Linked DNA regions of Homo sapiens. The protein of the gene in region 2 interacts with the protein of the main gene of each other region in a pairwise test. Each region holds a gene or a part of one and is shown on either strand. Other genes may lie near its edges.

Region 1 (3,805 bases), on a different chromosome or scaffold from region 2:
TTCTGAGGAAGGCAAAAGGCACCTCGCTGGGGTTGTTGTCCAGCTTTGCTGCTAACTATAAAGTATCTTTGTGCAAATTGGAAGAAGACACCCCTTTTGGGGCCTAGAGTGGGAGACTTGGGTGGTGAAGACTGAATTTCAGTCCCTGCTCACCCCTGCCCTCCCCAAGTCGCCATCTCACTTCTCCCCTATCACACACACACACTGTAGGCCAAGCGCTCTTGTGCAGCAACCAGTCTGCACACCCATGCACGGGAGTCCCTTTTCCCCCTACCTCCGTGCAGGTCCTGAGCTGGAAAGCCCAGGAGCCCAGGGCTGATGGGGACCTGTTGCAGGCGAGGGCGACATGAAGATGCACTGCTGCGTGGCCGCCTATATCTCCGACTATGCCTTCTTGGGCACTGCACTGCTGCCTCACCAGTGGCAGCACAAGGTGCACTTCATGGTCTCACTGGACCATTCCATGTGGTTCCACGCCCCCTTCCGAGCTGACCACTGGATGCTCTATGAATGCGAGAGCCCCTGGGCCGGTGAGTGTGGGGCCGTGTGGGACAAGGGCACTGACCTTGAGTGGCAGGAGCCTGCTTTCTTGGGTGATGCTGATTTCCCGACTTCCTGTGTGGCGCTGCACAGGTCACTTCCTTTCCTTCCCTCCCAGGCTTTGGCATCTTCATCTTCAAAATGAGAGGGTGAGGCCGGGACACCTGCTCTGCTCTAAATTTCTAGAATGTGCTGGAAATGTGATTCACCTTCTCCCAGGGACCCAGTTCTAGTCCCAAAACCAGTTCAGATTCTTTGTATTACAATAGGCAAATCATATCTTCCATCTGAACCTCAGTTTCCTCATCTAAACAAAGAGGGTTACATTACAGCAGTGGTATCCAAACCCGCAGTCCATCAGACTGCCATTTGGGGATGCCTTTTCAAAATAGATTCTGATTCCACCCTCAAGATTCTCACTCAGTAGGTCTTGGATAAGGTCCAGGAAACTGTATTTTTAAGTTCTCTAAGTGATTCTGATTAACCTGATTGGGATCGGGGCATTCAGTGGTCCCTAAGGGCCTGCTTGGACCTTCCTTGCAGGGGAGAGAAACAAGACTCGTTCATCAATGTCTAGCTTCAGAACCCTGACCTCCTTTCCAAGGGAGTACATTTCAAATGAAGAAAAGCTTTGCTTGATAAACCAAGGACAAAACTCAAGGATTCTTTATACTCAGATAAGGGGTATTCTCAAGTACCAATAGCATCACAATCCAAGATTGATAACCTTGAAGTGAGGACATGGGTTCAGATTTGGCTTCATCATGGGGCCAAATTCCTGACCCTCTCTGGATTTCAGTCCTGGTCTGGAAAACTGGACAACACATAACTGCTTCATTTGGCTACTGTGAGAACTGAGTGAGCTCTGCTATGTGTAAGGGAAACCAGCAATCATCCTCATAAACATCAAACTTGGGCCCAAAGCCAGCAAGGGAGAAAGAGTCTCCAGATGGGGAGGGAAGAGGCCAGACCTCATGGCCTCAAGTCCTCTCTTCTGAGTCCTTTCTTCCCCTTGGTGGTGGTAGTGGGGATATTTTTCATGAATTACCACTTGGAGGACCTGGCTTGATTTATTATACAGGGAGCCGATAGTTTTCCTAACACAAGTGGTCAGAGGTACAGCAGTTCTGCTTGGCCGAGCTGTTGAAGGAGACTGTTCTCAGAGCTCCTCCCTCTGTGATCTTTTTGAGGAAGCGAGGAGAGGTGTGAAAGTGCTTTTAAACTGTCAACTGGGGTTCCTGTGGGAGGAGTTACCCCTCAATGACGGTCCATAATAAGCTCATGAAGGGGCATTTGGAGCAGCCACGACACTCAGTGCACCCTTGTGTGGGGCAGCCCTGCCCTGGGCCAGACCCTTTGCAAGAAGTCCACTTGGAGGTTGGGCATGGTGATGTGCGCCTGTAATCCCAGCTGCTCAGGAGGCTGAGGCGGGAGGATCCCTTGAACCCAGGCGCTTGAGACCAGCCTGGCAACTTAGTGAGACTCTGTTTCAGGAAAAAAAAAAAAAGTGTATTTGGCTGTTCTGAAGCAGGCCATCATCACCCTTCACCTCACCCACAGGTGGCTCTCGGGGGCTGGTCCATGGGCGGCTGTGGCGTCAGGATGGAGTCCTAGCTGTGACCTGTGCCCAGGAGGGCGTGATCCGAGTGAAGCCCCAGGTCTCAGAGAGCAAGCTGTAGCCAGAGGTACCAGCTTCGCCTGGGGCTTCAAGAACCTCCCATCTATCCCCATTCCTGAGACAGGAGTTACAGTCCCTTTTGGCCCTCACATCCAATAAAGAGACTGATACCACTGGAGTGGCTGGCTTTTAATTCCCCTGGGCCAGACCTGCAGCCTTGCCTTCATCCCTTAACTCCAGGACTCCAGGGGCAGAGTCCCTGGCCTTCAGCCAAGAGGCCTTGCCAGCTTGGGGGCCCACCAACAAGGGAACATTGCCCCAACCTGTGCCACAGCCCCCCGGCTGTTTATAGGCTGGAGAGGCTGTGTCAGACTTCCCTGTACTACACAAGGGCAACCCCAGCCAAAGCTCACCCTGAGCCTAGCTCAACAGAAGTTTCCTTGATCTGCTTCACATTCTCTTTTGGAACTTCTAGGGGCTCCCAGCACCCTCTGCAGCCTCCCAGCTATTCTGTTCTCATCAGGTCCTTCCCCTGCCTTCTGGGGCAACCCCTCTCCTCACAGTGGCCTTAAATCTAGGCAAGGGTTAGTCCAGCACCTCCTTGATGAGCAATTCTTTGAGACTGGGGGGTGGTGTGGGGGTAAGGCCTGCCTCCTGCAGGGCTTGGAGCCGAGCCTCTGATTGACGTTTGTCCAGGCCCAGGCGCCAGGAGAGCCGGACATGGGCCTCCAGAAAGGGTGCCAGCAAAGGGTGGAGGCTCTTGTCCCCAAGCAGCTGCAGGGCCTTCTCACAGCATGCCCGGGCCTCTCCAGGGTCTTCCAGCTCCTGGTGGCACACGGCCAGCCCAGCCAGGGTCAGCAGGGGGCGGTCTGGGCCAGAGGGGGTGCCCAGCTGGGCTTGCAGCTGCCAGGCATTGGCCCAGAGTGCCAGAGCCTCACGATAGAGGCCAGTACAGGTGAGGCTCTGTGCCCGCCGCAGCTCCGGCAGCACGAAGAAGTCCTGCAGGTCCGGGGCATGGCGCAGCTCAGGCACTGCCTGCAGGTGACCCAAAAACTGCTCAAAGGCCCGGCTACGGCGGGCAATGGTCTCTGCAGTAAAATTCCGGCGCAGCCGCTTACGGGGGAAGGAGATGGCAGCCATTGGGCCCCGGAATTGCCGCTGCAGGTTTCGGTGCAGCCGCTCAAAGTCCGAGTAACGGCGAGAGATCTGGGCTGGCTGGCAATCTGGCGGTCCTGGGCCGATCACGGCGAGGGTGTAGAGCTGCAGGGAGGGTGGGTGTCAGGGCAAATGCAAGTTGTCCACGGGCCCGTTCCCTCCCCATCCTTCCCCATCCCCCACACTCCCAGCTGTACCTCCCCACCTCTTCCTTTCACCCCTGGGACAGCACCCAGGAGGGCGGGAGCTGCTGCGCAGTGGCGGGGAAGCCCAGTCCCATCTTACCTGAGGTTTGTCTGAAATGACCCAGGCCCAAGGCAGCAAGAAGAGAGAAAGACAGAGATGAGCTTCAGTGCCCGGGGCTGCTGCCCCTTTTTTTGTACTCCCTTCCCATAGAGCATTAGTTCTTCTGACAGCCCCCTCTGGAAAACCAGACATAAGCTGAAACCCCAGCCAATCTCTTGGGGCTCCTTTAGGACCAGCTTGGAGCTT
Region 2 (2,719 bases):
AAAAGGCATTGTTGTAGGGTTAACCAAAGTAACAAGGTTCAAGCATTCATTACATACATATTTTTAGAACACCTCCTTCATGCCAAGGTCCCTGCCCGTTGCTGAGGACAGAACAGGCAGATGTCATCCCTGCCTGGTCTTGTGGCTTTCTTGTGACCTGCTTTGATAGAGGGTTCACACCAGCCCTGTCTAGGCTTGCTTTCTCCAAGTAGTCATATTTTTCAGATTGAAATAATGCACTTTGCAGTAGACACCTGTCAGGCTTGTGGCTGCCTGGAACCTTTTGAATACTCATCCTAGACCTGGAGATTTTCCCTACAATTCCTGCCTCCCTAAGGCAGAATCCAGAGCTCAGTTTCCCATCCCCTCCTGCAGCTGGGGGACCTAGGGGTTGCCAGTTGGTGCAATCACATAATTCTTTCAGAAAAGAGCGACCCAGGATACAGGTTTCATGAAGAATCTGTTTTCAAGAGGGGATGAGGGTGGAAAATTCTGGTTTTCCAGGGCAGCCTTAATGAAGCTTTTGGCATCCAGGGTCCAGCAGTGTGAGCTGTGGGGGTGTCACTGCAGCTGGCCAACGGAATGACTTGTTTATGACTGTGCAGACTGTAGGCATCTCTGGCTATATCAGACATAGTAAGCTACCTAAGATTCTCAATTACTTATCTTCTAAAACTAGTAAGAGTGAGTTCTGTTCTTTGCAAAGAACTGTGACTAATACATATACTGAACTACTGTTACCTGCCAAAATCCAGGTTGACACATTCCTACCTTACATAAACTTCATAAAAATGATGTAAGGGCCGTGTAGTGGCTCATGCCTGTAATCCCAGCACTGTGGGAGGCTGAGGCGGGAGGATCACGTGAGCTCAAGAGTTCCACACCAGCCTGGACAATATAGTGAGATCCCCGTCTCCAGTATTTAAAAAATCTTTTAAGGTACGAATTATTATACATTTTACAGCTGAAAACACTGAGACTCAAAAAGACACTTAATTCATTCTACAAATATTTATTAAAGCCCAACTGTGTGCCAGCCACCAGGCATAGAATAGGGAACAAAATAGTTTCCCTGCAACTATATAAAAAGAATGGCATATTGTACTTAAATGCCTCCTTGCCAAAATAAGAGGCACAGGACAACAGCTGTCTGGAGATGACCTCAAGCCAGTCAGGCCCCATTTTAAATATAGAAACCCCTAAGAATAGCCGCCAGTGCTCCAGACTCAACAGGTGATTGGCCCAGAGAGGGGAGGTGACCCCAGGCCCCAGGAAAGGGAGCGAGGACAGCGCTGGTTCCCGGCTCCCCGCACCATCATGGCTTTGCCTCTGAGGCCCCTGACCCGGGGCTTGGCCAGCGCTGCCAAAGGAGGCCACGGAGGAGCAGGAGGTGAGTGGGGAACGGGCGGATCCGGGGGCTCCCCTACCCTGCCCACCTGTTCACAGGCCCGCCGCCCCAGGACCGCCGCGCTCACCCCGCTCCGTCCGCAGCTCGTACCTGGCGTCTGCTGACCTTCGTGCTGGCGCTGCCCAGCGTGGCCCTCTGCACCTTCAACTCCTATCTCCACTCGGGCCACCGCCCGCGCCCCGAGTTCCGTCCCTACCAACACCTCCGCATCCGCACCAAGGTACGCGGGACGGGCGCGCGGGCGGCACGGGGGTGCTGCGGGGGCGGGGGGGGGTGCTGCGGGGGCGGGGGGGGGTGCTGCGGGGGGGGGGTCGCGCGGGGCGCGGACTCCGGACTCACGGCGCTCACGCGCGCTCCCTCCCCCGCTCTCTCCACAGCCCTACCCCTGGGGGGACGGCAACCACACTCTGTTCCACAATAGCCACGTGAACCCTCTGCCCACGGGCTACGAACACCCCTGAGGCCCCGGACGCCCCCGGACACAATAAAGGTGTGAAGCTTCGAGTCTGCGGCTCTGTGGGGAGGGCGGGGCCACGGGGAGCGCGCCCAGAGGCGCCCGCTCCGCGCATGCGCCCAGCTTGGTAAGCGCTCCTGCTCCGCGCATGCGCCTAGCGCGGTGGGCGCTCCACGTGCTTTTCCCACGCCGCTGATACGGAGGTGCTCGAGGGAGCCTCCTCCACTCACAGGTAGGCGATCCCAGCTCCCTGTCTCTCACCTGGTAATAATGAGGCCTCCCTCTCACACACACCTATTAATAATTAGGGCTCTAGGCTGTAATGGGCTTCCGCGTACACCGAATCCTCACAGTAACGCTGGGAGCAGGGTATAAATTTAGTTCACCTTCTCCCGAGGAAGACCTGAGATTCTTGGGAATTAAATGACTTGTCCAAGTTCCGGCAGCTCGGCAGAGCCCCCATGGGAGCCCAGGGCTGCAGATCCTGAAGTCCCACTTCTTGCCTGACACCTGAGCTGCTGGTGTCTGTGAATCCCAGCTCTCTGGATTTCAGACGGAGGCTCCACAGTCCTGTGTGTGAGGCCTTGGGACCTAATGCTGGATTTGGAATCTTTTGATAATTCTCTATAATCTTTCTTTCTTTTTTTTTTTTTTTTTTTGAGACGGAGTCTCGCTCTGTCGCCCAGGCCGGACTGCGGACTGCAGTGGTGCAATCTCGGCTCACTGCAAGCTCCGCTTCCCGGGTTCACGCCATTCTCCTGCCTCAGCCTCCTGAGTAGCTGGGACTACAGGCGCCCGCCACCGCGCCCGGCTAATTTTTTGTATTTTTAGTAGAGACGGGGTTTCACCTTGTTAGC

The links.
Region 1: the proteins of COX6A2 (region 2) and SNX21 interact in a two-hybrid assay, tested with the Homo sapiens proteins (one large-scale study listed by BioGRID and IntAct).

The regions. Positions count from the first base shown.
Region 1 is NC_000020.11:45,840,252-45,844,056, reverse strand, and holds the end of SNX21 (sorting nexin-21), read right to left. Parts: exon of another isoform or gene 3,752-3,805; coding exon of another isoform or gene 3,599-3,751; intron 3,419-3,598; coding exon 2,744-3,418; 3' UTR 2,220-2,743; coding exon of another isoform or gene 2,101-2,219; 3' UTR 2,025-2,100; coding exon of another isoform or gene 2,014-2,024; 3' UTR 781-2,013; downstream 1-780. Other genes in the region: ACOT8 (acyl-coenzyme A thioesterase 8), read left to right, coding at 336-530, 2,101-2,219. UniProt on the Homo sapiens protein: Binds to membranes enriched in phosphatidylinositol 3-phosphate (PtdIns(P3)) and phosphatidylinositol 4,5-bisphosphate. May be involved in several stages of intracellular trafficking.
Region 2 is NC_000016.10:31,426,924-31,429,642, reverse strand, and holds COX6A2 (cytochrome c oxidase subunit 6A2, mitochondrial precursor), read left to right. Parts: upstream 1-1,282; 5' UTR 1,283-1,317; coding exon 1,318-1,390; intron 1,391-1,491; coding exon 1,492-1,628; intron 1,629-1,785; coding exon 1,786-1,869; 3' UTR 1,870-1,912; downstream 1,913-2,719. UniProt on the Homo sapiens protein: Component of the cytochrome c oxidase, the last enzyme in the mitochondrial electron transport chain which drives oxidative phosphorylation.